Regions from separate parts of the Homo sapiens genome. Here regions 1, 3, 4 and 5 are each linked to region 2. Evidence: fine-mapped expression QTL. A gene starts in region 2. Each other region holds a variant in brackets. All regions are shown on one strand. Distances are between the middles of the regions.

Region 1 (6,275 bases), 400 kb after region 2:
CAGGTTTACAAGGAGGGCAATAGCAGAAGGATTATATTGGCATGCTAGGACATGTAGTATCAAATTGTGTCTTGCAAACTACAAGATATATAAAGGGACTTGACCTCATCCATGTACTTATAAGTTGGTAGATTTGTTTTAAAGACTTTGAAAAGTCTGTTTTTGAGAAAATGTGGATGTTTAAAGTCACCTACTAATCAACGGATAGTGATACAGTTTGGATGTCTGTCCCCTCCAAATCTCATGTTGAAATGTGATCCCCAGTGTTGAAGGTGGGAACTGGTGTCTGGGTCATGGGGGCATGGCGTGATCTCGGCTCACTGCAGCCTCTGCCTACCAGGTTCAAGCGTTTCTCATGCCTCAGCCCTCCCAAGTAGCTGGGATTACAGGCATCTGCCAACATGCCCAGCTAATTTTTGTATTTTTAGTAGAGATGGGGTTTCACCATGTCGACCAGACTGGTCTCCAACTCCTGACCTCAAGTGATCCACCCCTCCTTGGCCTCCCAACGTGCTGGGATTACAGGCGTAAGCCACCATACCTGGCCCCCTTAATTATTTTGGTCTCAGAAATTTAACTTATCAGTGTGGCAAGAGTTAACTGGCCTCTTAGGGGCTGGTTCATAACAACCAAATTCTCAAGAGATAAATGATAAAGCAGACACTAACAGATTTATCAATTTACCATGGAAGAATAAACAGCAGATTTACTAATTTACCAAGGAATAAACACTTCCAACAAGCCCAGGACACTCTTCTCCTGCCATTAGATACCAGATACTTAGGTAGTTTGGAAATGGATGTGTTGTCAAAAGTTTGTCAGTAACAAAAAATCAGAGAAAAGAAATAGGATACTCTTGAGGAATATTTCAACAAAGATAAAGAAAAGCTAATGGTTTCTCCATGTCCCCTAATCCTGTTCATTTTCTAGTGGTCAGACTGTCTTTTAGATAAAGTGTCTCTATGTGGTACAAAATTCCTCCTTTTCTAGACTCAAGCAGATAAGGCCACTCTTTTGTTAATGGGAGCATGCACCTTGCAGATAATTCAGTGACAATTTTCCCTTCTTATAGCCTGGCCACTTTAGTAAAGCTTGGACATTGTCCATAATTTAGTCATTTATCCTCGTACCAGTTTGTAAACTGTATGGTTATGTCTGTACATGATTAAACTCTTGGATATTGTGTGCTGAGTCCTATGAGATACTCTCATGGAGAATGATTTTATCTACCTACAAGCATTGAAGACACTTTATCATGACTCCTACAGAAACGACAACACCAACTCTCACTGGTCCCATTAGGACACACAGGAAATTCTCTGCAAAAGGACTAGCAACTTTGACTCTTTGTAACATGACTTCATGATGGATGCTGCAGTCATTTCTCAAGGATACTTGTTAAGCATAGTCTTCGTTTTTGGTAGGTGATTTACAGAAATATTTAAATGTGTTTCAGCAAGTTAAACATGTCAGCACATGTCAAAACACTGAAGTTATAATGACAGTCTATGACCTTAGCACAAACATGATGTCAATATTGAGAGACCTCTTGTTATCATTAACATCCTCCTTGAACTGAGTGTCTTTGAAAGACTCTTTACCGAGCTCTTAAACAAATTAATTACTGCACATATTTCCTAATTGAAATATTCAGGGCATTAATTTTTTATGGAATTCAGGAATTCTAAAGGGTAGGAATAATTTGATCTTTCTCGGAGTGGGAAGAAGTTTGTTTCTAACAGGAGCTTAATAAAAGAAACTCTGTCTCTATTAATCATAATTAATAGATAATCATATACAATATAATCTAAATCAACATAATAAGAAAAATTGTTGTTTTCAAATAATAAAGTTCAGAAAAATAAGTTGCATCATTAAGTCTGGATACTTGGTACAAAGTAGGAACTGAAGAAATGCTGAATGAAACCTTTACATCTGCCATAATTGTGTAAAGTTTTAATTATGAACAAATTTTCATTGATTTTTATTTGAGGCCATGTTTTGGACATTTCTCCTTCAGTTTTAAATGAATAAATGCTTACCAAGAACTGGCTAAGTGTGATTCAACTCCATGTGCTAGTCAGGCACACCATGTTAGGCACTACGGTGAGTTAATACTAAGTTAGCATCCATGGTGAAACCCCGTGTCTACCAAAAATACAAAAAATTAGCCAAGCGTGGTGGCATGCACCTGTAGTCCCAGCTACTTGGGAGGCTGAGGCAAGAGAATCGCTTGAACCCAGGAGGTGGAGGTTGCAGTGAGTCAAGATTGCGCCCCTGCACTCCAGCCTGGGCGACACAATGAGACTCCATCTCAAAATAAATAAATAAATAAATAAATAAAAATGTAAAATAAAAATACTAAGCATTACAAAGAATTTAAATTTATTCCATGATATACAACTTTTGGGGTGTATTAATTTACCGATGTTCAGATTTGATATTATTTGATTGGACTTTGAAGACCATACTTCAATTACATTTATCAATTTCTATTTGTTTATCCTTAAAAATAATTACATTAATAATAAAAACATTTAGACTTGTAATCTTGTGACCTGCCTGCAAGTCATTTATCAAATAAATTGCTGATTCTTTAAATAGTTCTTAAGAGGACCTCCAATTTCAGAACTACTGGGTTAACTGTTTTCAATCTGTTCAATTATACAGTTTGATAACATGTATTTACAAAGCACCAGCAATGTGCTGAATCCTAGGAAAACAGTGTAAGTGAAAACAAATGAGATGCCATCTTCCGTCTGTGTGACTCTGCAAAGGCACGGCTGATGTCTTATTTTAGTATGTTGCCTTTCATTTTTGGCCATGTCTTACTACAAGGGCTCCTATTGCTATTTTTATTTTTTATTTTTTTTATTATTATTTTTTTTAGTATTTATTGATCATTCTTGGGTGTTTCTCGGAGAGGGGGATGTGGCAGGGTCATAGGACAATAGTGGAGGGAAGGTCAGCAGATAAACATGTGAACAAGGGTCTCTGGTTTTCCTAGGCAGAGGATCCTGTGGCCTTCCGTAGTGTTTGTGTCCCTGGGTACTTGAGATTAGGGAGTGGTGATGACTCTTAACCAGCATGCTGCCTTCAAGCATCTGTTTAACAAAGCACATCTTGCACCGCCCTTAATCCATTTAACCCTGAGTGGACACAGCACATGTTTCAGAGAGCAGGGGGTTGGGGGTAAGGTTACAGATTAACAGCATCCCAAGGCAGAAGAATTTTTCTTAGTACAGAACAAAATGGAGTCTCCTATGTCTACTTCTTTCTACACAGACACCGCAACAATCTGATTTCTCTTTCTTTTCCCCACATTTCCCCCCTTTCTATTTGACAAAACCGCCATCGTCATCATGGCCCGTTCTCAATGAGCTGTTGGGCACACCTTCCAGA[C/T]GGGGTCGCGGCCGGGCAGAGGCGCTCCCCACATCTCAGACGATGGGCGGCCGGACAGAGACGCTCCTCACTTCCCAGACGGGATGGCGGCCGGGAAGAGGCGCTGCTCACTTCCCAGACTGGGCGGCCGGGCAGAGGGGCTCCTCACATCCCAGACGATGGGCAGCCGGGCAGAGACGCTCCTCACTTCCCAGACGGGGTGGCGGCCGGGAAGAGGCGCTCCTCACTTCCCAGACTGGGCGGCCGGGCAGAGGGGCTCCTCACATCCCAGACGATGGGCGGCCAGGCAGAGACACTCCTCAGTTCCCAGACGGGGTCGCCGCCGGGCAGAGGTGCTCTTCACATCTTAGACTGGGCGGCCGGGCAGAGGGGCTCCTCACATCCCAGACTATGGGCGGCCAGGCAGAGACGCTCCTCACTTCCCAGACGGGGTGGCGGCCGGGCAGAGGCTGTAATCTTAGCACTTTGGGAGGCCAAGGCAGGCGGCTGGGAGGTGGAGGTTGTAGCGAGCCGAGATCACGCCACTGCACTCCAGCCTGGGCAACATTGAGCACTGAGTGAGCGAGACTCCGTCTGCAATCCCAGCACCTCGGGAGGCCGAGCTGGGCAGATCACTCGCGGTCAGGAGCTGGAGACCAGCCCGGCCAACACGGCCAAACCCCGTCTCCACCAAAAAATACAAAAACCAGTCAGGCGTGGTGGCACGCGCCTGCAATCCCAGGCACTCTGCAGGCTGAGGCAGGAGAATCAGGCAGGGAGGTTGCAGTGAGCCGAGATGGCGGCAGTACAGTCCAGCCTCCGCTCGGCATCAGAGGGAGACCGTGGAGAGAGGGGAGACGGGAGAGGGGAGAGGGGAGAGGGAGAGGGCTATTTTTAGTAATATATATTTTAACTGGCAGTTCTCCGGCCAGATCTGTGGTTGCATTCTCTTATACTAGCCGGTCTCACACTTAAATCCATTGGCAGAGCATCTGAAAGATGCAGTGTTCTCTGCAGAAGCATAGTTAACCTGGCATAAAATTAGGAAGAATTCTTCCACGGCAATGTGACTCCATTACATTAATAAACTATACATTTATATGCAGGAATCCATCATTCCACACATTAAAAAGCTGTTAAATGAAGCTAAGTTGAGGGTTTTGAAAATAAATTTAAGCCAGTGAAAAGAGTTAAGTATTAAAATAATGTTATTTGAGAATGCTGAAGAATTAAACAATTAATGAGCACATTAAGGTTAAGAGAGGACATTCAAGAGTTGTCCTTCATTGGGGAAGAGGACACTAATCATGATGACAATCATGACTCAACAGATATGCTCAAAGACATACCCAGGTGTTATGTGTACCCTCACTTGCCTGACCCTTAAAAGTGGCCAGCAGAATGGTCAATGAGGTTTGAGAAAAGAGGGAATAGCAAGAGTGCAAGAATAACCCACAGGCTGACATGGTATCTTCATCAACCACCTGCAAAGTATCTGACACTTGCCCTGTATTCTGGCACTGATCACAATGGGCATTCAGGTCATTCGTGCTGCAGACATGCACATGTGTATATCCAGGTTATTAAATGAGCTCAACTCCATGAGGGTACACTCCTCCTCAAGACAGAGATCATGCCTTATCCAGCTCAAAGTTCTCTGGGCTGGAAACTGGGCCTTCACACAGAAAGTATTTTTCAAAAGTTTCTTGTGGATATTAATGAGCAAAATATTTTTCTAAATATAGTTGATGTAAATAACACATGTTGGGAAGACAAATTTATACAACACTAAAACCCAGCTATAAGGTAACTGCAGTTGACTCATTTCATTGCTAAAGCACAATCACTTGCTAACATCCTCTTCTTGGGCAGTCTTTTAAGTGGCCAGTTTGGCTGCTATAGGTAACATCATTTCCTGATGGACATCATCTTGGATAGAAAATAGAATACAGAATAACATTACAAGGAGCATCTTGCCTTTGCCTATGAGATAAGAAACTAGTGCTCTTCAAGGCTCAAAAACAAAAACAAAAAATGAAAACTGGGCACACATAAGAGGTCTTAGAATATTTGCTGTAGGAAACTTGGTCATTCAGAACTTAATGAGGCTTTATGTTGCCATTTTTTCTTTAAAACATGAAGTATGAGTGCCAACATTTTGATATATTACAATCTCTGTCTCCCATCCTGTCCTACTTTTAAGCCCCTTCTATTTTCTTCTGACTCATAATTTTTCAGTCATGTACCAGATGTAAGCACGACATCATGTATAAAAAAAAGGAAGGAAGGGAGGGAGAGATGGAGCAAGGGAGGAAGGAAGGAAGGAAAAAGAGAAAAAGAAATAATTTATTCTTGCTTTTTAGCATAAAGATTTAATGACACATTTCAAACATTTCTATACAATGGCCATGTTGACCATCTCATAAAACTTAACCACCCCCCAACACACACAAAAAATGAAAGAAATCCACCAGAGGATACTTAAAATCCCAACTTGGGAAATAGTTTTAAGGCCTTCTATTATGGGTTGAATTGTGCCTCCCAAATATTAATATGTTGAAGTCCAAATCTCCAGTACCTCAGAGTGTGACCTATTTAGAAACAGGGCCATTGCAGATGCAATTAATTAAGATGAGGTCATAACTAAGTAGTGCAGGCTCCTAATCCAATATGACTGATGTGTTTATAAGAAGGGAAAATCTGTACAAAGAAATAAACACAGGGAGAATGCCATGTAAAGATGAAGGCAGAGATTGGGATGATGCTTCTACAAACCAAGGAATGCCAAAAAAATGCCAGCAAACTACCAGAAGAGAGGCTGAAGGCATGGATCAGAGTCTCTCTCACAGCCCTTAGAAGGAACCAACCCATGATCTGGACTCCAAGCCGTTAGA
Region 2 (6,275 bases):
CATTGTTGTGCAAACATCATGAAGTATACTTAACACAAACCTACATATTATAGCCTTATGATTCTAGACTACAAACTTTTATAGCATATTACTGTACTGAATAATGTAGGTAACTATAACACAATGTTGTGTTTGTGTTTCTAAACAGAAAGGGTAGTATGTTGCACTACGATGTTACAACATCACTAAGCAACAGGAATTATCCATTATAATCTTAAGGGACCACAGTCACATAATGTAATCAGACATTGAAATATTATGTGGTGCACGAGTGTATTCAAAAAGTGCTGCCAGGCCACTGCCCTCCAGCCTGAGACAGAGTGAGACTCCTTCTCTGAAAAAATAAAAGTGCTGCTAGTCAATCCAATGTAAAAATATAAACTTCCTGTCATTATCAATTCATTTCCTTGAACCTAAAAATAATCTCTCAACAAAATGAGTCTTCCTTACTTCTGCGGTAAAGTCCTTTCTTTTTTTCTTGTCCTTTGTTCCAAGGAGAAAGGATTCACTCGGGTCCCTGTGAGAAGAGCTTCTTTAGCACTCTAAAATTAGAAAAGTATACCCAGGAGAGAGCAGGTTCCTTCCAGTTCCCTAGGAGAGTAGAGCACCAAATATTTCTCCTAGGTCTTGCTTTGTGGCTGTATGTGTGTCCTTGCTGGTACTGATGATGCCTTCCATATAAGGACTCAGACTCCACTAGCTGCCAGATTTCTGCTTGAAACACTGCCCGCTAGCGTTGAAGCTTTCAAACGATTTTAATCCATGGTGATGAAGCAAGAACAGTGTTTTCTGTACACTGCATCTACCCTATACTCTCTGTTTCTACCCCTCACATCTCCAAATTAGGGGGCTTCACTGGCTTTGTGCCTTGGTTTTTTCCACTCACCTGTGTGATCTCAGGAGGCAGAGTTTCAAGTTAGTCATCAGTGATTTCCTCAAGTCCATTTGTCTTATATTTAGCAGCAATTCCTTAGTGCTTCTGGCACGCAATAAGACTAAAACTGAGAGATCTCCACCTTTATAAGCATTTTTCATTTTAATCAATGGTCTTAATGGGAGTAGTTAGATCTGCACATTCTTCTAACCACCCAGGAGTCCTTATCCAACAACAGTGCACTTGTGTATGTTTTCATCCATGTGACGTAAGTGTATCAGCTAGTTGTTAAAGTGCAAAGACTAACAGTCTGTCTTAACACATATTTCCATACCAAAAAATCACTTTATTTCACAACGTGACAAAGTCCACATTAGGATTTGTTGGCAAATTAAAATTCTTTACTCACAAAATGATAAAAGGAAGGAGACACAGCTCAAAGTTAATGTGTAAGAGTTAACAGAATCAATACAAGTGAATAGCTGTGGAGCCCAGGGGATGCAGGAATCAAGGCAGACAAAGATATCTGTTGAATTAAATTAATGTTAGGTCACTACCCATGGTTGACATCACAGAAGTGGATAAGCATACCAGAGTAAACAAAGGAATCCTTTCTTAAACAAAAAACCCATACAACTTATTTTACTCCCTTATCGAGAAATATTTTCAAAATATAAGCCCATTCCTGGTAGGTTAAGACCAATTCAGATGACTGCATTGCCATTCCAGGGCCAAGAAAGCAACTTTAAAAACATGACCTACGCTATGGTCTAAATGTGTCCCTCAAAATGCACATTTTGAAATCCTAACTCCCGAACTGACGGTTTTAGCAAGTGGCATCTTGGGAAGTGAGGAATGGGATTAAGGTCCTTATAAAATAGGCCCAAGCGAGGGCCTCTGCCTCTCCACCATGCGAGGACAGAGCCAGAAGGTGCTATCCACTAAAGAGAAAGCACCCCTCCCTAGACACACCTTATTCTGTGACATTCCAGCCTTCAGAAATGTGAAGAATAAACTTCTGTGGTTCATAAACTACCCAGTCTAGGATATTTTGTTATGGAAGCCCAAAAGGATCAAGCCATTCCAAAATAGCATTGTTGCCCACACCATCTTTTTGAACCTCACTTAGGGTAACACCATACCCATTCGGAGTTAAGCCCTTCCTAACTCTTAAGTATCAACGTGCTTGGAAACGTGAGCAATCCTGACACGTTTTTTCTTCCTAAAGAACAATACATACTAATAATAGGATCGGCTAATAATACTAGATTCTATGCATGAAGCCTAGTATTTAAAAGCATGCAATCTGGAGCTAGACCGCCTGGGAACAAATCCCAGCTTACTAGACAAGCTGTTTAACCTTTTACTTGGTCTCATTTAACTCATTTGTAAAACGAGGGCAATTTCTGATTTCATAGGGTTGCTACGTGGATTTTAAAAAGCCCCTTGCAATATAGCCTAATATTCAGAACTCAATAACATGAACTGTCTTAAAAGGTTTCCAGAAAAAATCCCCAACAGGTTAGGTCGGCTTATCATTACAACGCTTTCCGGTATAAGGGAGATGAATAGCTATTTAGCACCACACAATTTCTCCTCTGGGCTCGGAACAGCTCTCGGTAGACTACGATCCCTTTCCGACGTGGAAACTTCAGATAAAAACGCTCCCCGAGGTCCGAGGCCAGTACGGGGCGGAGCCAGGACGCGGGCCAGAGTCCCCCGAAGGACGGTGCCTCTCTGGCCCCAAGAAGTACAGCTTTTATTTTGCAGCAATCTGAGCCAACCCGAGAAGATTCTGAAGCTTCCAAAACAGAACCGACGAGAACACTCATAGAATGCCTCTCCACTTCCTAACTGTCGCTTTGAGGAGAGAAAAGTAAGCCACAGCCAGCACCGCAGACTGGAGAAGGCGGAGTCTGCAGTGTGCCTAACGCGAACTAGAGGGACCGAGGCGGGGCGGGGCTGGCGAAGCGCGAGGACCCGGGGCCGAGGTGTGGGGCTGACCATAGAGTGCCGGACGCCGGTGTGAACATACACTATCTGCTCCTGTAGTGCCCAGGCCCCTGCCGGGGAGTCCCCGGAGCTACCATTATCGAGACTCTCATTCTATTGCCCTGCGGCTTTAATCCTTCGAGTGTAGGGGAAAAATTGAACCCTAAAGACAGGCAGCTCCTAGGCACCAGCACAGGAAATAAGCAATGGAGGTGGGGTCCTTTGCTCGCGCCGAAATTCAAAGGAATAAATAGTTCCGGCGCGGGTGTTGAGAGCGGTGTGGCAGGTGTTGTAGCCGCTATGGTGAAGTTCGCTTTGTAGCGGCCCCGGCTAGAGAGTTGTTCTGTTCCCTGCCTTTGTGACCCGGAGGAGCTTTTGGGGTGCGTCAAGCCCCTGGCCTGAGGCAGCGGTGAGGCGTGTGCGTGAGCACGGCCGGTTGGGCCGGGCCAGACTTCCTGGCGGGAGGCGGGAGGCGGGAGGCGGGGCGCGGGGCGCGGGGGCTGTAGGGAGGGGGACCAGTGGCAGAGGGACCTTAGGTGATCCTTAGAAATAAAGGCTAGCTTCTGTTCGACCTTGGAGTAGGGCGAAGAGGTGTAGACAGGCCTGGAGAAGCGAGGTAAAAGCCTGAGTAAAAGCAAGAAGTTGGAGAATATGAGATACATCTCATCTCTAGTAAATACTTAAATGACTTCCCCTCCTCCCGGAGTCAAGCACAATTCGGGGATGCAATGACGGACGTAGGTGAAGACACTGCGGGAACTTACAGACAAGTAATGACCGTCTAATATCAGCTTTAAGTACCATGAAGGAAAAAGAAAGCCGAGTGAAGGATTGTGGAGAGGTGACATAGGGAGGTCAGGGAGGACTCCAGTAAGGTGACATTTGAGCAAAGACGTGAGTGCAGTAGAGAGTAAGCTATGTCAGTATCAGAGAAAAGCACATTATAGGCAAAGATAATGGGATATGTAATAATCCATAGTCTTTGTTTAGGTAGAGTATGATAAAAGTAGAAGGCAAGCCTGGAAAAACGGGTAGAAGAAATAGTTAAGACTTCCCAGTTGAATGGTTTAATTTCCAGATAGTGGCTAACTCTGGTATATTTTTGAGTAGATGAACGATGTCTTTACATCAGACAAGATAGTTTGTCAAGTGGCTGTTTTATTTCTATCACCCTATCGTTGCTGTTTTTGCCTCGTGTTCATTATGATTCCAGGTTTACATTCCACTTAGGTGGTGGTATTTCTGTTTCGTACAGAACTGGTTTGTGGCCTGTTTGATTCCTGTCAGAGGTTTGCTGACCCAAGACAGTATCGAAAATGCATATTAAGTCAATTATTCTAGAGGGATTCAAGTCCTATGCTCAGAGGACCGAAGTCAATGGTTTTGACCCCCTCTTCAATGCTATCACTGGCTTAAATGGTAGTGGGAAATCCAACATATTGGACTCCATCTGCTTTTTGCTGGGCATCTCCAACCTGTCTCAGGTAAAGTGTAAACTTTCTGATTTATTTGAATTTAAGTTGGCAGGAGAATCCTCACTGAACTTTGGAGACGTCCCGATATTCTCTTCATTTGTGTTTTTATACTTTTTGTAAATTACACCTCACTGCAACCTTTTAAGGAAAGTAATATTACTCCTTTAGATGAGAAAATAGAAACTTAGAGATGTTTAGAAGTAACAGTGCCTCAAAACTCAGGCATTCTGACTGTAAAGCAGTCTCATTCCAGAGTATTTTCAACCCTGTGTAATGATGCCTTTTCAAATCCTATTAATGGATTGAATGACTAGTGAAAATCTTTGGGACAGTATTTCCTTATATCTTGCAAAGTAACTTTTTATTAAAAAATGAATAGGAAACAATTCAATTCAGGGTTGAAAAGGTTCTGTAGAGAAAAGTGTCCATTGCAGGTTGTTGCCTATTTTCCTTGTTTTTCTTGCCAGAGGATGCAGCTGCCTAACCTTGTCTACTTAATGGACACTACGTTGGTGGGTTTTCCAACAGCAAGGGACCCATTTTTAGTGCTGCTTTGTACGGTAGGGAGTTTTGTAATTGTTACACTTTTCATATTTTATTTTAGGTTCGGGCTTCTAATTTACAAGATTTAGTTTACAAAAATGGGCAGGCTGGTATTACCAAAGCCTCTGTGTCAATCACTTTTGATAATTCTGACAAAAAGCAAAGTCCTTTAGGATTTGAGGTTCATGATGAAATCACAGTAACAAGGCAGGTGAGTGGCAATTAAACCTTTGGGTATCTTAAGACCTTTTATGTCTGATGTGGTTTTTGGCCCTATGCCTTTGCAAAACGTGCTAGAGAAAGTTCATGAGCAAAATTGGTGCCTTAAATTCTGACTAGATTCCTTAATGTCTTCCTTATATTAAAATCTTGATCATGCACATTCTATCACTAAGAGGATTGAAAGACAGCTGAAAAGTTGTTCATCCAGTATAAGCACTCAGCTATGCTGAAATCTTAAACCATATTTGAATCTTCTTTGGTTGTTCTTGAACACCTGTGTACTTGAGATCTTTCAATCTTCTGAGATAACCCATTCTGTTTTTGGACAGGTCTTATTAGAAAGTTAACAGCTATAAGTTTTGTCAGAGTCTGCTGTCTTCAAATTTTATTCATTAATCCTAGTCCTCTTGAGAGCACCAAGAGCAAATCTAACTTATTCCCTACTTCAGTGTTTAAGTGATGTGCAAGTATATGTGTTTTAGTTCTAAGTGAAATCTTGCCAGGTCTTTCACTTGATGTTTGTTCCTAGTTCCTTCACTTGCCTGATTATACCAAGTATGCTCCAGTTTCCCTCCCTGCTCCTGCATTCATCTATCTTTCTTTCTTTTAATGGCACCTTAGATTGGGTGTACCAAAATTGGTCTAGTTGGAGTTATTCTTTCATTTTAGATATTCTACTTTTATTTTTCCCAGTAGAGCATTGGGGTGTTCATAATACATTGTGGATTCATATTAGATTTACTTGAAACCACTCAATTTTTTTTTAGGTGTGTTATTAATATAGTCAGGCAGTGTTTTCAGCTTGTCAAGGTTTTTTTTTTTTTTTTTTTTTTTCCTGAGACGGAGTCTCGCTCTGTTACCCAGGCTGGTCTCCATCTCCCGGGTTCAAGAGATTCTTCTGCCTCAGCCTCCTGAGTAGCTGGGACTACAGGTGCCCACCACCACACCCGGCTAATTTTTTTTTGTTTTTTGTATTTTTAGTAGAGACGGGATTTCGCTATGTTGGCCAGGGTGGTCTCAATCTCCTGACCTCATGATCTGCCCGCCTTGGCCTCCCAAAGTGCTAGGATTACAGGTGTGAGCCACGGCGCCTGGCCCAAGATTTTGTTTTTAAAAATGTTGTCAACTCCTATTTACTGTCCATCTTATCATTTATCACTTACAGATTT
Region 3 (6,275 bases), 61 kb after region 2:
AATTTACCTCCCCTCAACTGAGGTATAGCAGAATCAGAATTTAAATACATCTCTTCAATTCCAAGGTTCATGATTTTTCAACATGTGTTTCTAAAATGCCATTTAATAATGTAAAAACTAAAGGGAAAAAAACTTTCTACACAGAATTTACTTAAATATATAGGATCATAAACTTCGAAATGAACTCTTTTGCCTTCCATTCTTTTAAACTAAAAGAGCAAAAAATACACAATGACTACAAACAACCATGAAACCACAATTTAGCTCAACATCTCATGCAGATAAAGGGGTGAAATAAAGTTGCAGCATAGAGAGTCAGATATACAGAGCATATAACATGTATTATGAGCCATGTAATGACTTATTTTTCCCACCACTTTTCTCAATGTACATCACTGTAATCTTGTACAGTATGCTATTTTGCCATCACCTACTAAGACAAAACCATGTACATGCTAAAAACACCTCTGTTCTTTTATTTAATGGCTCAATTGCATCAAAGCATTCCTACTTCATGCTAAAGATATTGTTATACAATTATAAAGGCAAGCAATGAAATCACTTGTATCAAGAATACAAGTTATTTATTAAGATGAGCCTTAAACATGTTTATATTCACTTTTAAACTTACCGAAAGAAAAAGCACAAAATTTAAAATATTGAGAAGTTAACAGACCCCTGAGAATGTATCCTAAGACCCCTCCCCAGAGGTCCTCAAACTGCAGTTTGAGGAGGACTACACTATAGCATATGAAAGTGTATATGCTTTTTATATAGGATCATTATTCTCTGACAAAAGTTTCTTCCACAGTAACAGTTTGCTCAGAGGATTTTTACTAAGATTTCTCATGTATGTTCTACTGTACTTTATGTAGCGTAAAGCTTTTTCCCCATCTCCCTGAAGAGTGACAGCTTCAGAACACCCTTCTTGACTTCAGGACTAAGAACAGCTAGCTGGAATAGCTCTTCCCATTTAGGTCTAGCTCTGAATTTCTCAAAGTCCTGTACAAAAGCTAAATGTAATCTATTTATTGTCCTTTCTCTTTCATAATGTGAAATTGGTGACATTGATAATATCAACTAGATAGATTGCTAGACAAATTAGAACATAGTAAATGTTCTTGCAGTTTCTTGACACATACAAGGTACTAAAAAAACGTTAAACTCTATCACCACTAACATAAATCAAAATTATTCTATACTATTCCAAATGTACATTTACACTTATATTATCATGTCTTATGGATTAATTTGTCACCCCAACAAACCAAACTCTTTGGACTCAGAGAGCAGGCTTATTCCAGCGTTTTCAGTGCCTAAATAAGTGCTTAGCACTTAGGAGTTTTTCTATCAATCAGGAATTGCTGAACTAGTGAATTCTTGTTTATGTCACCTCACATGTGATGTATAATACCTTCACATGAAACACTGTAGTAAAAAACATTTTTTAAGATTTCTGTTTTTTTGAATTGTCTTCCTTTTACCTAACAATACATGAAACATAGTAGGAAAGAATTGTATAAATTAAATCACACCTCCACCCAACCACACACACACATCTCCTTAAGAGCTCATCTGATTCAACCCCATAATTATTTTCACTGTGGGGCAATTTAAATTTAGGAATGTCAAGGAACTTCTTGTCTCTGAATGTCCAACCCAGTACTTTCTCCCTTATGTGTGCTGCCTACTACCCCTACCTACTCTGTGTCTTGGTTATTTACAGTTTTCTTATATATATTTTTTGTGCATTACTCAAATTTTCCATCCTATTTTACTTGTCTGTTTCTTCTGCCTACAAGCCCTTTATTTCAATCTCTGTCTAGAAATTGTTTGTGTATCTTTCAAGTGTCAGATTTAATGCTATGTCTACTGAGGCCTTGCTGCAGATAGCTTGAGATGCTGCCTCTTTCATATTTTTTCAGTAAGTCAAGACCTCTCAGGATGGTTACTGTATTATATTCTCTCGGTGTTATACCCCCTGGAAAGCAAGGAGGACAGGGAGAATGTTTAATGTATCTCTTTATCGTTAATACTTAGCATAGTACCTGACACAGAGAGATTAACAAATGTTTCTTTCTTCACTTGATACATAATAGTTTACATATTTATGGAGTACATGTGATATTTTGTTGCATATGTAGAGTGTGTAATAATCAAGTCAAGGGATTTGGGGAATCCATCGCCTTGAGTACTTACGGTATCTATGTTTTGGGAACATTTCAAGTTATCTCTTCTAGCTAAACAAGTATTTCTAAATGGAAAGTGTTAGACTTGTTAAAAAGTTTTTCATTTTATTAAAGATTCATGAGTTTATAATTGAGGAAATCTCAAGCACTTGGACAAGAGGTAGAGCAGATGGCTTTTCAGGAGATCCATTACGGTACTTGTAACCAAATCACAGGTAGTCTATTTGTAAGACAGCTATAGGCATAGAGGCTCTGATGATTAATACTTCTGGATGAGAGTGGGAAATGAATGAACCTTTACTGGCAGCAAAAGACAATGTCATTCCAGGGGAGAGGGAAGGACATGCATAAGGCATGAAAATATGAAACATTAAATGTTGGAGACTACAAACATTTCTATATGCCTGGGTTATAGATTGTGTAAATGGAATCAAGAAAAGAAGCTGGAAAGGCACTTCTACAACTGGATTGAGAAAAGTATTTGACTTTAAACTCTGTCTTCCTAACAAATCTGATTTGACTGGAAAATTAGAAGATCCTCAAACAATCATCAGTCAGGAGAAAAGCGGTGTGAGAAATTTTTTTTTAATGTGGATGTGGACTCATGATCTAACCTTGTGAATTTAGCACAATTCTAACGAGAGCAAAAACCAGCGACATAATTAATTTTCTAAACAGAGAGAAAAATACTGCTAAGGCAAATCCAAGGTGTTCCCTGGATTTTAGACAAAATCAGTGGAAAGGAACCACACTGAAAACTATCTTGGCCTTCTGATTTGCTTTCTGTTACAAAGCATTATCCATAGCTAAATATGCAAACTGATATATTCAAACTCAAATTCACAATGTAAAAATTGTCAATCCACTCATTTTGCAACTGCAGGCATACTATGAACATCTACTACACTTTTTGCTGCCCCCTACTTTGTCCAACCTATGGATACCACAACAGACCTAACTCAGAACCCAAAACAGGAATAAAATTTGGCCTATATTCGATGGTTGGGACGTAGAGTCTAGGTAACTATGTCAGAATCACCACTTCTCTTTGAGGCTTCTCTCATTCATCCATCCCTCTGTTGCTTTCCTCTTTTCTTCTCTCTTGAAGCTATCTACTCAAGTCTTGCTGACTACA[A/G]ACCTAATTTTCCTATTTTCTCATGGTCTTCTTTTTTAAAAACATTTTATTAGAGATGGGATGGTCTCACCATCTTACCTAGGCTGGTCTTGAACCCCTGACCTCAAGTGATCCTCTTGTGTCAGCCTCCTGAGTAGCTGGGACTACAAATCTGCACCACGGCGGGCTTCTTTTGGTTTTGAATCACTTCCATGCCCTTGTAGGTCTTTTGCTAGTATTTCTACAGGACAGCTTTCTCCCAAAATGCAATTTCTTTTCTGAAACCCTGTTTCTACCCTACTCCTAGGTCCAGCCTTCATTCCCCAGAGCTATAGCCCAGGCTAAGCCTTTGACCTTCTGCTTAATCTGAGAAGAAAATTTGGACTCTTATAATATTTTCAGCTAAAAATATTCTAGTGAGCAACTTAAGTCATTTTTTTTTCTTTCTCTGAAAGGAAATAAAAAGTTTGAAAGAGTAATACCAAACTAAGTAGGCATAGTTACTTCCAAATTCCTTAAATAATGATGATTTCCAACATTTCACAGGAAACATTATCAAATAATCCAGATAAAAAGATATGCTGCACAGTAAGTATATAAATGTAGCAACTGCCACAAATGAAATCATTTCTTAGCACTAAATCTTTTAAAGTGAAAAACAACAGTTTAGTGTGTTGGTACAAAAGCCTGTTTGAGCCATGTGCAGTTTGTGACAAAATCTACTGAAACTGCAATTAGTAATCTTCATGTTTTGATATATATTTTTCCCTGAAAACATATGGTCATAGATTTCATAGATTTTCAGTTCTAGTTTTTAACTTCTCACCCAAATTGCCATTCTTAATTCAAATTCCTTTCTGCAATGAAAGCACAGAATTTCAAGTGGTATTTTTTTTACTGTGTATGTGTGTGTGTGTGTGTGTGTGTGTGTGTGTGTGTGTAGACATAAAAGAACATTTCCAATGAGAGAAAAATACGTGTGGACCAATGTTATATGTTATATACACACACACACATAGGCTGTATATATGTAATTATATATATATATATATATATATAATTGTATATATATAATTTGGTGTTAAAAGGTCTCAATATAAGTTTTTCTTAGTTTTGACTGGTGCGATTCAGAATACAAAATAAGTAGACAGCAGTTATTTGGAGAGGGATTGGCATCACTTTGTCACTTTGTAGATGTTTTTTAGATGAGGCTGCTATTCACCATTTTCTTAAAAAAGAAATGCACCAAACAACATACAGCTTTTGCATTTTACATGCCTGTGAAACAGGTATAAAGTACTAATAACATTGATAAAATTTTAGAATTATACCATGGTATTCTTTTTCTTTTCAAGCTTTCAATTACCTCTTTATAATTATTTTATTTATTTATTTATTTATTTAGAGACAGAGTCTCGTTCTGTTGCCCAGGCTGGAGTGCAGTGGTGCAATCTCAGGTCACTGTAATCTATGCCTCCCTGGTTCAAGCCATTCTCGTGCCTCCGCCTCCCAAGTAGCTGGGATTACAGGCATTCACCACCATGCCCAGTAGAGATGGGGTTTCTCCATGTTGGCCAGCCTGGTCTTGAACTTCTGACATCAGGTGATCCACCCCCTCCTTGGCCTCCCAAAGTGCTGGGATTACAGGAGTGAGCCACCATGCCCAGCTTATTTTAAATATTTTTAAATTCTCTTATAAATAATGTGTGCATGGGCATGGCCAAAGAAATTCAAAATTTACATTTTATACCTATAAAAAGAAAATTATTCCTCCCACTGTCCACTCACATTTCTATTTCCAGAGTAACCCTTTTAGACCATTCCTATTTTACTCTTTTCTAATTAATCAATTTTTTCTTTCCATTGTGTCAGCACCATAAAGGTATTTGAGTACATTTATTTTTGATCGAGATTATGGAAGAGACCTTCCTATTTAATTGTCCTGGAGCAGAAATTCCATCATGCATGCTACTGCTTATTGCATCCTCCGTAGTGTAATAGACCTACCTCTGCTATGTAGTGGAGTTCTCTAGTGGACTTCTCACAACCTACACATGACAAATCAACTTTAGACTAAAACAGGATTTATATTGGAATGACATATAACATTGTTCCACACTTATTTTTCTCTCATTGGTAATATTCTTTTATGTCTATAACTCTTACTGTAAACATATTAGTTTGGTGCAAAAGTAATTACATTTTTCACTTTTTTTTTTTTTTGAGATGGAGTCTCACTCTGTCACTCGGGCTGGGGTGCAGTGGCGTGATCTCGGCTCACTGCAACCTCCGCCTCCCGGGTTCGAGGATTCTCATTCCCCAGCATCCTGAGTAGCTGGGACTACAGGTGTGCACCACCATGCCTGGCTAATTTTTGTATTTTTGGTAGAGACGGAGTTTCATCATGTTGGCCAGGATGGTCTCGAACTTCTGCTCTCAAGTGATCTGCCCACCTCAGCTTCCCAAAGTTTTGGGAATACAGGCGTGAACCACTGCACCTGGCCAGTTTTTGCTATTCCCCTCAATGGTATAAACCACAATTACTTTTGCACCAATGTAATTGGTGTTTCTGATGCCAATCAATTATTTTTACAAAATAATTCAAGGCAACGTTTTGTCAGATTTTCTGCTGCTTCTCACATGTCTAGTTAAGTTTCATCAATCAGGAGCATAGTTTTATATAGTTTGAAAAGTTGATGGGACTCTGTTTAGACAATGTTAAATCAATTTTGGCATGGTCCACTCACCTATCTCACTCCCCTCTGGTCAGAAAGAAAATTATATTTTGAGGGGGAAACAAACTCTCTTGGTCCCAACTGTCTTACAAAGATTTTCTTGGTGAAGCACAAACCTGCATGTCTCATTATTTATTATTGCTTTTAGGAAAATACTACATATATATATTTGTTTTACCATGTGGAGTTTTAAAAGGTTACATAAAAGGTTTGAAGACAGTATGCAAAAATGTGAAA
Region 4 (6,046 bases), 32 kb after region 2:
CTGTTCGTTTTTACCAATACTCATTTCCACCAGCAGCATATGAACATTTCTCCAAGTTCTTTTTTCTCCAGACTTTTAAAATTTTCCAAATCTGTTGGTTGTGAAAAGATAGCATGCATTAGCATTTAATTTGCATTTCCCTAATTGCTGATGAAATTTGGGATCTTTTTTTGTATGTTCATTGGACCTTTGGGTTTATACTTGTGTGAATTTTCTGTTTATTTCTTTTGCCCATGGGTTGCTCATGGTTTTTTTCCCACTGTTCTCATGCTTAAGAGTCCTAATTTCCTGTAGGTTATGTGCATTGCAAATATCCTTTTACCATCTTTTTTGGCTATGTACTGGTCTTTTAATTTTGTGTTCATAGTATTTTTGTTTTACAAAAGTTTTTAATATTTAGTGTAATTCACTTTATAGCCATTTCCCTAATTTTAAGATAGCTTATATGTTTTCCTTAGAATTTAATTGTATATGGTAGTTTAAATTTTTGTCATTCATTAGGACAATATCCACACATGTGCTTCTCCACTAATATTTTAATAGTATTTTCTGCAGTGAAAAGTAGTGTAAGAAATTGTGCGGTAATGACTTCCAAGGTTATGTTTGCACCTGGGTCCTAACACTCACAATATACATCAGTTGTTACAGCAACACGTGTTCATTCAGTATTGCCCTTTTATTTATTTTTTTGAGACGGAGTCTCTCTCTGTCCCCAGGCTGGAGTGCAGTGGCGCAATCTCAGCTCACTGCAACCTCCACCTCCTGGGTTCAGGTGCCTTCCTCAGCCTCCCGAGTAGCTGGGACTACAGGCGTGCATCACCACACCCAGCTAATTTTTGTATTTTTAGTAGAGATGAGGTTTTATCATGTTGGTCAGGATGGTCTTGATCTCTTGACCTCATGATCTGCCTGCCTTGGCTTCCCAAAGTGCTGGGATTACACAGGCATGAACTACCACGCCTGACCTTATTTTTTTCTTTCACAGATTTGGGGATGTTTTTCCTTTGCTGTATCCCAGGCATACTGTCATATTATTTGTCGACTTTAATGAGAAGTTCCCTGAATATGTATAAAATAGGCAAAGAACATAAAGTAAGCTTGTTTATGAAATTACACACTTTCTAGCAACTATAGAAAAAATACCATAGTTATACTGTTCTGGTTTTAGGAAGCATACAATTGCATTAAAAATATGATCTGTGATTTTTTTTTTTTTAATAGGTTGCTTCAATACCTTTGTAAAAGGATAGTTGTAGGTAAAGTTCAATTTCATAGCAAAAGAAATTATTTTGTTACAGATCTTTAGATAATTCAAGTATGGCTTTTGGGTAGGATCTGTGTTTCATTATACCATTTCTAGAATATCATTGGGATAGTTAATTTTCTTAAATTGTACCCTGTAATTTTCCAAACCATTTCTTCTATTAAAAGTTGAATTTGTCAACCTTTACCATTGTTAACTTAGCCACATTTGCTTACTTTGTGATGCAGAGGAAAGTGAGGAGACTTTGAAAAACACTAAAGAAATCCAAAGAAAAGCAGAAGAAAAATATGAAGTATTGGAAAATAAAATGAAAAATGCAGAAGCTGAAAGAGAGCGAGAACTGAAAGATGCTCAGAAAAAACTGGATTGTGCCAAAACAAAGGCAGATGCATCTAGCAAGAAGATGAAAGAAAAACAACAGGTAATAACTTCTTTTTGAAATTGAACCAACCTTTTAAAGTCAACATAGAGCTGAAGGTGGTAGAGCATCATTGGTTGACCTTATTCATCAGAATTGATCTCAGAATCTAAAAGGGAGCAGTGTTCTTTGGAAACAAATTATGCTTCTTACAAGTCAAAGGAGTATCCAGGATGAGCATCTCAAATCCAAAATACAAATTAGAAACTTTTTGAGTGTTGATCTGAGGCTCAAAGGAAATGTTCATTGGAGCAGATTGGATTTGGGATACTCAGTTACTCTGTATAATGCAAATATTCCAAAATCCAAAAAAAAAATCTGAAGTCTGGAAGACTTCTGGTCCTACACACTTTGGATAAGGGATATTTAATCTGTATTTTTCTCTGAAAACCCTGCAATCGAGTGTTTCATAGTTGTGAGTAGGGGATGCTAATTTTAAGGAAAGGGCAAAGTTGACGGTTGGTAAATGCTTCCTTCAAGAGTGGATGGCCTTTCTTCAGGAGTGGATTATTTGATATTCTGGATGTCATATCAGAGATTCAGCAAGTTGACATTTTTATTTGATAAGCACCTAAATGAATGTGCACTGTGAGAGCATAATGGAAGACAAAGCATGTTATATTTACAAGGTGTCATTCAGTTGTAAACTGATGATACTTTGTTATATCTTTTAGCTAATGCCAAAGCTGGAATCTGAACCTAGGTTTTTGTCTCCAAAGGCTACGTTGTTAATCACTTTTATGCGATTTCACCTAAATATATTTCCCTCGCATTTTTTTTTAGCCCACTCTAAGATTCTTGTCATTAAATAGCTGTAAAAAGTATTTTCTAATGCAGGGGTCCCCAACCCCCCAGGCCACAGACCAGTAACAGAGGAGGTGTGTGACAGGCAAATGAGGATTACTGCCTGAGTTCCACCTTGTGTCAGATCAGCTGTGGCATTAGATTCTCAGAGGAGTGCAGACCCTTTTCTGAACTGTGCATGCAAGGGATCTAGGTTGCATATTCCTTATGAGAATCTAATGCGTGATGATCTGAGATGGGGTGGTTTTATCCTGAAACCATACTCTCTCCCTGTGCCCGCCATATGGAAAAATCATCTTCCACAAATCTGGTCCTCGGTGCCAAAAAGG[T/C]TGGGGACTGCTCTTCTAATGAACTGAAGGCTATAGTGGGAAAGAAGAATATTGAGAAACTTTTTACACATTGAACAATTTTGTTTTTAAAAAAGCTTTACTTCCAGTAATTCATCTGTTACGTAGAATGTTATATTATTTTCCCTATAGGAATAAAGGATAAAGAAAATAATTTATGCAGAGTTCTTTGAACCTATAAAAATTACACATACTTTTTTTTTTGATATAGGAAAATAAACTTCCTTTTCTGGGGAAGCAGCTTAACCTGTACTTTCGGTAGCTGAGTGGTAACAAAGCTGTGGGTCTTACTTGCATGAGATTATTATTTATTTAATTGTTCTGTACATATTTGTTTTTCAGTAGTTAATAACCTATATGAATACCTGAATACTGTATTTTTTATAGGAAGTTGAAGCTATCACTCTGGAACTGGAAGAGCTCAAGAGAGAGCATACATCTTACAAACAACAGCTTGAAGCTGTAAATGAAGCTATCAAATCCTATGAAAGTCAGATTGAAGTAATGGCAGCTGAGGTGGCTAAAAATAAGGTAGGATTTATTTATCAAATTCGAGAAATTGAAAATGCGAATCTTTTTATGAAACATTAGCTTAAGATGTTTGACTTTAGTGTTCTCAGTCTTTTCACTCGTCATCATGAGAGAATGAGGCACAAATAGCTTTTACTCATCCAGAATTGCCAGTTTTGGGATCACATAGGTCAGTCAGCTTCTAGCAGTCCCTCTTCTTCCTCACTTAGTTGATTCCATCTACATTACATCTAACAAAAAACGCTCTCATTTGCAGCATGAGCGTGCAGCATGAGCATTGTACCTCCCACCCCTTTTACCAGGGATGATCCAAGTTTTCTTCTGTGTATAAATTGATTAGTCCTTTTAATGGTGATATAAAATATAGAGGGTTAGGTGATCATCTCTCTGCCTGTAATCACATTGCCCTCTTGCCCAGGGATCTGTCAGATAATTGTTTAGTAAATTAAAATTATTTACATGTTACCTCACCACATATTTTCTTTAATTTTTTTGTTTTAGGAGTCAGTAAATAAAGCTCAAGAAGAGGTGACCAAGCAAAAAGAGGTGATAACAGCCCAAGACACTGTAATTAAAGCTAAATATGCAGAAGTGGCAAAACACAAGGAGCAAAACAATGATTCTCAGCTTAAAATTAAGGAATTAGACCACAACATCAGCAAACATAAACGGGAGGCTGAAGATGGTGCTGCAAAGGTATACGTTTGTGTGCATTTTTTATACTAAATCAAATTTTTGTTACTGAGCTCTTGAAAAAATTTAGAAAACTGCTTGATAGAGAACTCTATAAATATAAATGGCAAAATTACAGCCTGGCATAAATTTGAGCTTGCAGCTTTAACTGCTTTTCAACAATGCTAATTTTCAACAAATTGCACAAATGTTTTATTTTTAGATTTAACTTTAGATATTTTTTCCCATCTACAGGATGTATTTACCAAATGTTTAGTGGTCTCCCATGGAAATAACTTTTCACCTCCAAATGTTGATAGAACTAATTACTGATGTGCTAGTAATAATGATATATATTCTCTACCTTATTTCAAATTGAATTAAAAAACTCACAGAACTATATATACAGGTAATCTAAAAAAAGGACTGAATTGGCTTCCACATGTCTTTATGAGTGTTACTGCTGTCAGTATTTGCAACTTTATAAAAAATCTGATGTTTTGCCAAGCAGCTATGTTTTTGAGGTTATCCCAGTTTCTTTCTTTCATGTGTCACAGCACCTTTACTTCAGTGCTTTAAAGATAACACGTGCTTTTGCAGAAATTCATTGCTTGGTTAAGAAGCTGCATTCACATGGTATTAATAATTCATCTAGCATGTTTTCTTATGAGTGTGTAACAGTTTGGCACCTTTTTAATGTCCAGGATATTTTTTTTTAGCATCCTAAAAATACATGAACTTTAACTTCAGAAAGATCAAGAACATACAAAACAATCTCCCTCTCTTCTGAAAGAACTGTGGAACTTGATTTAAACAACATTTTTCATGGCTACATTATAATCTACCACTTTATTACTATTGATTTCCCATTAGCTTAGTGATAGTGGACTGACTGAAATACTACCAATGGCAATGTTACTGCTAATAGTTTTTTGGTAATTGAAAATGCTAGTACTGGCGATTGCTAGGAGATTTTATTTACAAGAGTAAAAGGAGGGACTTGCAAGTGGGTCTGCTAAGAAGTCAATCAAAGATTTATACATACCTACCAGTATCAGATACTGTGCCAGGCACTGACAATGTAAGGATGAGCAACACATACAGGATGCTTTCAAAGAGTTTACAGGTCAAAAGGAAGATACACTAGAAATGATAATTGTACTTTGGGGCCTACAGGTGAGACCATATCCATGGAATTAATACAAGTCAATAAATTAACAAGGATTGGATTCTGCCAGTGAGAATGAATCATAATTCTAGTAGAAGAAAGTCTTCTTTAGGCACTATAATTTGAACTGTATAATCAGTTGTATTACATGAAAAATTATTATACAGTGCCTTTTTCAATATACTGTGCCTTTTTCAAAAGGTGGGGAGCAGGATAGAGTCAATGTTTAGGGCAGTTTCTTAGAATATATTTCTGAGAGAAAAATTATTAGGTCTCAGTCAGCATTAGGCTTCCATGATTTTTACCAAATCTATGACTTAAGTATTAAAAGAGTTTTAGCTTCTCATAAGTTGTGTTTTGAAGCAATAGATTGAATTTGGTAAATTCTGAAGGAGTTCTACCTGACTTACATTTCATTCTAATGGAGGTGCTTTGCGTATACTTCGTAAAAATTTCTCTGTGAGTTGGCTCTTCTAATGCCAAAGTAATAGGAAGATCTTTTGCTATACAGTGTCTTGTTTCTGTAGTCTGTGTTCCAGGTAAAAATATTCATCTTTATTCTTGTCAGTAATGAAACTCATTTTTAAAAATGAGTCGCCTAGGCACGGTGGCTCACGCCTGTAATCCCAGCACTTTGGGAGGCCGAGGTTGGCAGATCACCTGAGGTCGGGAGTTCCAGATCAGCCTGACCAACATGGAGAAACCCCGTCTCTACTAAAAATACAAAATTAGCTGGGCGTGGTGGTACATACCTGTGATCCCAGTTACTCAGGAGGCTGAGGCAGCAGAATCACTTGAACCTGGGAGGTGTAAGTTGCGGTCAGCCAAGATCGCGCCATTGC
Region 5 (6,275 bases), 47 kb after region 2:
TTAATGCACTATTGCTGTAGGAGCTGGGGCTGCCAAATATGCTTGCATAAATTATGCATTGTACAACTCTGGGGACTCCACTCATAGTTACCATGGATTGTGTATTTATTATAGCAGTGTTTTGGCAAATAACATTGAATGGGGCGGCGGGGCAGTGCCTAATTATTCAGAAGTTCTGTTTGGGCTAGTGGTGTGCTATAGGAACTTGAAACCTTCTTTGATATTAAAATGTCACAAGAAAAATATCTCACTAGAGCAGCTTTAGTTAGCAACAAAACTGAATGCCAGCTACAAAAGATAGCAACAAGCAGTCAACCACCAGGAAATAGTAAAATTGGGTAATGAAGTACCCAAAGTAAAATTAAGAGACTTCTAAAACAATATGGACAGCTAGCATTCATTTAGGTGCCTCATATAACTATTTAAAGAAATAAAATTATCTCCAAACCATTCTTATCACCAGTATAAAGGAGTAAACTTCAAGTATATCACAAAAAGTTTTTTTATACTTTTTTCTTTTTTCCTTAAGTTCATTGTGGTGTCACTAAAAGAAGGTATGTTCAACAATGCAAACGTTCTTTTCAAAACCAAGTTTGTGGATGGTGTTTCTACAGTAGCCAGATTTACTCAATGTCAAAATGGAAAGATTTCAAAGGAAGCAAAATCCAAGGCAAAACCACCCAAAGGAGCACATGTGGAAGTTTAAACTACAAAGTTATTTCTTCATCTTGACCTGTTTTTTTAAATGTAAACTTTTAAGGACTTGAGATAACTAATTTGTTTATATACAAAAATTAATGTTACTGTGTTACTTAACCCATGTTTTCTCTTTATATAATCACTTATCGCTTACAAATGAGCATATATTCCTCATCTCTTAACTAGTCTAATTATGGTCCAATTATTGTGGTTGTGATTTTATGCATATCATCAAATGTTTTTTTCTTATGCGGGTCTTTTATATATTAGGGATCCTGAGATACCCGATTCTATATGTAAAAGCTAATATACAAAAAAGCAGATTAAATTACATGATAAATGTAGCTGATCATCAGTGTTTAATTGATTTAATTCCTAAGGCAATATTAATGTGTTTTCTAAAGTCATTCAGGTAAGGAAGAATTATAAATCAGGTAACTGGACCAACAAAGGGAACACATATAAAGCTATTATGCATGCATGGAGCCGTTTGAGGCTAGTTTTTTAAGGCCACAACTCCAGACCCCTGATTTAGACTGAGATAGGAAACAGATCTTGAAAGAATCCTTATTTTAATGATACATGAATATCATGTTCCTATACGCTTAATAATTGGTCTCTACGTTTTAATGATACATGAATATCATGTTCCTATACGCTTAATAATTGGTCTCTACGACTTTAATGTTTTTGTTTTTTTAAGCTGTGTAAGTATTTTTAAATCAAAGCTTAGGAGGTGTGTTGCGTGGTACTATCTGCTGCAAATTTATCTGAAGTTTGTTAATATTTTCCAAGATTTTTGTCAGCCTTTTCATAATCCAGTCATTAACAACCTATTGGTAAACAAGAATGTAGGTGCCAGTAGACTAAACCAAATTTATTTTTCCCTGAGTCTGATATATATATGTATAAATATAAATAACTCAATCCATCTGTTCCACCAAAATAACTCAAAAGTTGGATGATTATTTGTCTTCCGCTTTCCAGTTCAAAGGGATGAAATTCCTTTAGAACTTGAAAGATGACACTAGCGAACACCATGAGAATACTGTCTACAGTTTTTGGTACGTCATCACTAGAACAGTGACCCCAAACTGAATCATGAAAGGTCTGACATGATGTAATCTGATCTTCCATGTGTTATTTTGGCCCCACATCTCTTCTTGATTTTTTAGTCTTATTTCCTTAGTGTTATTATCATACTTCCCCTGATATATGGCCGTACTTCCTGGCCCTGGGCTTGACATTTCCCACCCTTCATTCTCCATACATATGAGATGTCAGAAAACATGCAGTAATTGATATTATGGGACACATTGGAAAGGATTGAATCTGGAATTAGTTCTGTCCACTGTGGAGGGGAGAGGAAATAATGCTGTAAATGTTGAGTTACAGAAAGTCCAATGTCAAATATAGTTTTTTTGTTTCCTTTCAAATGTATTACAGACTGTGCCAAAACAGTTACCAATTCACACTGTCAATATTAAAGTATACCATAGTATACAAATTAGTCAGTACTTGCTGTTAATTTTAATATTTCTGATTTAACAGTTAGTTATTAAGTGGTACTTCATTGCTGTTTTAGCCAACGTTTTAAAAATAATTTGGGAGTTTGACTATTTTGGCTTACGTACTCATTTCCTTTTCTCTGCTAAAAATGTTTTGCTTGTGTGCGTTCCTGATTTTTGTCTTGTATAATCTTGATCTTTGAAAACCCTCAAACATGTATTAAATTGTTGTAACTTTTTTTCATTAGAGGGAAGACATTAAGGGGATTGGGGACATTTGTTTCACACATCTGCAGTAATA[T/C]GAGTTAACTAATATTTAACAAGCTCTTTCTTTACATTAGCTGCTGTTCTCATTTGTATGTATTGTCATATTTAATCCTCAGAGTAACCTAGTGAGGTAAATACTGTTGTTGTCAGCATGGTGTAATCGAGGAATTGAGTGAGTTGAGCAGAAAAGTTAGGAAACTTGCTCAGGGTGATAATACAGTTAGGAGTGTCAGGGCCCATGGACAAATCTTGTCAGTCTCCAGAACCTAAGATATACTACGTCACTGACAGCTTGAACATTTGTATTTATTGTACAGAATAAATTTAAGAAAAATACCTGTATGAGCAGTATGTACAACGTGAATGTTACCTTAAAGAAGAACCTCAACCATGTGAAGAGAGGATTCATTGTGGTGGTGGCGGTTTTGGCATTTCAAGTAAGCTCACAGCAAATGCAAAGCAAAGACATGAAATTTTCTCTTCCAATAGGGTGGCATAATCTAAAGGCCAACATTCCCACAGATGATAAATATAGATTCTGAGCAAAATACTAGAAACAACTACCTGAGAGTTCAGGAAACTGAAGAAAAACTAGAAAGATTTTGGATGGGAGATAAAATACGGAGGAAGAGACAGGCACAAGCTAAGGTTAATGTTTTTAACCTAAGTACCAGCTATAGTCATGATGCAGCTGTAGGACAGCTAAGGCTGCAGTGGAAAGCCTGGGGTCTTTCTGGTCTGGAGAACTAAAAGATGGGATCTGGGCTAACCACAGCTTCCAGAAAGTGAAGGAGACGTCTCAGAAGGGATAAACGAGGACCTGGAGAAAGAGGTCCCCAGACTTACTTAGTAGATGAAGTCAGCGAAAGTAATTAACCCCTGAACTCTAGATACAGAACACATCAAAGATAAAGCCAGATACTAGTTAAAACAGTAAGGATAGATTTAAATCAGTAACATACTCTTGAAATAAGAAGAGTCCAGTATGAACTGAACTCAATTTTGATTTGTATTGAGGTGACTGGGTGTCTTAAAGGGAGAATGAGGGAATAGAGGAGGATAAGTGGGGGCTTAGAGTCAGGGATATAAACAGGAAAGGGAATTGGTTGATGTGAAACCCATTTAGATTTGTTAACTGGCTCTAATGCCAAGGTAGGCTCTTACCCTCCCACAGAGACTGGGACTCTACCTTCAAGTGTTGGTTGGAAGAAACAGTAAACTCAGCAACCTTGAGTTTTCTCAGGAGTTGACTTTCAGGAGGAGGATAGTCAACCTATGGATGTGGCTTTGAGCTGTTAGAAACTGCTAGTGTTTTTTTCAGATCTTTACAGGCAAAGGTTTATTTAGACGTAGAAAGGGCTCAGAAGAACCTGGCTAGAACTTCATCAAAGAGAATCTTTGTGAAAAAGACAAGCAGTTTGCAGTTTACCATAATAAAATTAAATTGTGATTTGAACTGCCACCTGCAAGACCGTTCTCCAGGTGACCTTGGACTGACCCACTTCTCCCCACTTCTCACTAGTTGTCAAAAAGAACAGCCTTGCTATCTGGTCAGGTGAATGACAACCAAGTGGAAAAAGATCTGTGTGGTTACAAGGAGTATGGCAAAAGGTTGCTAACTGGCAAGGACAAATACATGTCACCTGTGGATGCTGGGAATACCATAGCCACCTTTTAGGGAAACTTAAATTATGTTTTTGGATACCCTGTAAAACTTTGCTCTGACAAGGAACCTCCTTTACTGCCCAAGGAACATGACAGCAGGCACACTCATGGAATACAATGGGTTTTCCATGCACCCTGTCATCCTCAGTCCAATAGAGCTGTTGAACAATGGAAAGCCAGCTCACAATGAGTGAAGGAAGGACACCAAGATAGCCTACAAGTGGGGTGGTACCACCCCATCCGAATATGGCAGTATGGACACTGAGCACTGCCCTCCAGGGCAAGGGAACCACATGATTGCAGCACATGTTGAGAAGCACTGAGCTTGGAGGAGGTACAGGTGGACCAGATGACGGCCTCTGCCTGTGAAATCCAAATTCCAGTGTTCCCAGCCATTTTCTCTTTTTAGAGTGCACATCCTGTGGGTGGTTTGCAGTTCAGGCTGCCACAGTACCCCAAAAGGCCCCCCTAACTCTTAATCTGGAGTCAGCGTTTCCCTCAGGTGCACTCCCTGTGGGATCCCTCAAGGGTGGAAACAGGACCAAGAAATACCAGGATGCTAGAGTCCCTCTGATAGTGCCAGGGACATCTGATCCTTCCATTTGGCTGGGCAATGTTGTCAGACATGTCATCATTCAAGAAGTGACTTCCCTTCCTGGACTGGATGGCTGAGGCTGAAATGTCTGAGGCATTTCAAGGGTAGTACCACAGGATATGGTAATGTTTATAGTATACAGTGTGATGTTTTGATATTTGTATATGTTATGGAATGATTACCTCAATCAAGCTAATTAACATATCATCTCACATAATTACCTTTTTTGTGTGTATGGTGAGAACATTAAGATGTATTCTGGCAAATTTTAAATATATAACAGTATTAGCTATAGTCACCATGCTGTACAGCAGATCTCCAGAACTTATTCATCATGCATAACTATGACTTTGTATTCTTTGATAAACATCTCCCCACTTCCCCTGCTCCCCAGCCCTTGGCAACCACATTCTACTCCCTGGTTCTATGCGTTTGACTTTTTCAGATTTTACAAATGAGTGAGATCATTAGAGTATTTGTCTTTCTGTGCCTCTTTGATTTCGCTTAGCATTATCCCTTCTATGTTAATACATGTCACAAATAACATGTCCTTTTTAACGCTAAATAATACTCCTGTGTGTATCTTTATATCTAGGTTGACTCTAGTTTTTTTGCTAGTATGAATACCGTAAACATTTGTGTACAGGTCACAGACATCTGATCCTTCCATTGTGGTGGGCGATGTTATCAGATAGGTCAAGTTTGTTTAGGACCTGACCTCCCTTCCTGGACTAGACCACTGAGGCCAAAAGGTCTGGGTGAAGTAACAAGGGCAATGGGGCCTGCAGAGGTAGTGGCCTCAGGATAGGGATAGACAGACTGGGTTACTGCCCCAACTCAGCCTGACCCCTATCCCATAGATGGAGTCAACTCTGAGAGATCTGGATGGTTTGGATGCATAACACCTTTGTTAGGTTCTCCTAAGCTGTGGCCATGGCCACAAAGTGATCTGCCATTCTGGACCTCATTCTGTCACAGACCACAGTGACCAAGTCTTATTAATGGCATAGTTGCATTCACTCAGGTTCTCTCGTACAATGTTATTCATGAAGCCCCTACACAGAGGGCTAACAACAATCCAGTCCCTGTTTTTGTTGTTGCCATTGGGATACTTACTCATGTAATAAAAGGTGTGTCAAAGTGCCAGCCCCTCAAGGTTTTGTTAGTTGTGGTTCTGATATTTTGCCAGAGGTCATTATTTTAAAACAGGGCACCAGCATTCCTAATGCTATAACATACACCAGTACACTAACAGAACCTGAGCCTGAGCCCTGATTACTGAGTAAGGATGTATCCATAGCATGGAAAGGAGCCAGAGGTGACCAGTTTTTTTTTTTTGTTTGTTTTTTTGTTTTGTTTTTTTTGGCCTATGGATATCCAATTGCTCCAGCACAATTTGTTGAAAAGGCTGTCTTAGCCAGGCACGGAGGCTCAAGCCTGTAATCTCAGCACTTTGGGAGGCCGAGGCAGGTGGATCACTTGAGGTCAGGAGTTCGAGACCAGCCAGACCAACATGGTGAAACCCCGTCTCTACTAAAAAT

Which allele goes with the higher level. Positions count from the first base shown, and alleles are read on the strand shown. Sizes are in standard deviations (SD) of each study's normalised expression. Not every link is listed here.
In carriers of allele C in region 1, the expression in monocytes of the gene that starts at base 3,107 in region 2 tends to be higher than with T alone (large effect, 1.0 SD a copy in CEDAR).

Evidence for each region. PIP is the estimated chance that this variant, and not a neighbour inherited with it, causes the effect. A credible set is the group of variants that fine-mapping cannot tell apart.
Region 1: its variant is the best candidate, but not a certain one, in a credible set for the expression of SMC2 in monocytes (CEDAR, PIP 0.56).
Region 3: its variant is the best candidate, but not a certain one, in a credible set for the expression of SMC2 in sun-exposed skin (GTEx, PIP 0.54).
Region 4: its variant is the best candidate, but not a certain one, in a credible set for the expression of SMC2 in whole blood (TOPMed, PIP 0.61).
Region 5: its variant is the best candidate, but not a certain one, in a credible set for the expression of SMC2 in whole blood (TOPMed, PIP 0.65).

What each region holds. Positions count from the first base shown.
Region 1 is chr9:104,486,343-104,492,617 of GRCh38, forward strand. No RefSeq gene overlaps it. Among named protein-coding and RNA genes, the nearest start is that of OR13F1, 15 kb to the right of the region's middle. RefSeq lists an enhancer at 2,841-3,342. The variant C/T (reference allele first, on the strand shown) is at 3,403.
Region 2 is chr9:104,091,203-104,097,477 of GRCh38, forward strand. SMC2 (structural maintenance of chromosomes 2) reads left to right here and starts at 3,107. Exons shown (of 25, transcript NM_006444.3): 1 at 3,107-3,275; 2 at 4,122-4,350; 3 at 4,946-5,095. The coding sequence starts at 4,183. SMC2-DT (SMC2 divergent transcript) reads right to left here and starts at 1,272. Exons shown (of 3, transcript NR_121580.1): 1 at 887-1,272. RefSeq lists enhancers at 2,390-3,059, 2,522-2,841, 3,060-3,727.
Region 3 is chr9:104,152,165-104,158,439 of GRCh38, forward strand. No RefSeq gene overlaps it. Among named protein-coding and RNA genes, the nearest start is that of SMC2, 61 kb to the left of the region's middle. The variant A/G (reference allele first, on the strand shown) is at 3,325.
Region 4 is chr9:104,123,421-104,129,466 of GRCh38, forward strand. It overlaps SMC2 (structural maintenance of chromosomes 2), which reads left to right. Exons shown (of 25, transcript NM_006444.3): 18 at 1,492-1,685; 19 at 3,221-3,364; 20 at 3,866-4,060. Among named protein-coding and RNA genes, the nearest start is that of SMC2, 32 kb to the left of the region's middle. The variant T/C (reference allele first, on the strand shown) is at 2,816.
Region 5 is chr9:104,138,610-104,144,884 of GRCh38, forward strand. SMC2 (structural maintenance of chromosomes 2) reads left to right here. Exons shown (of 25, transcript NM_006444.3): 25 at 530-2,810. The coding sequence ends at 706. Among named protein-coding and RNA genes, the nearest start is that of SMC2, 47 kb to the left of the region's middle. The variant T/C (reference allele first, on the strand shown) is at 2,509.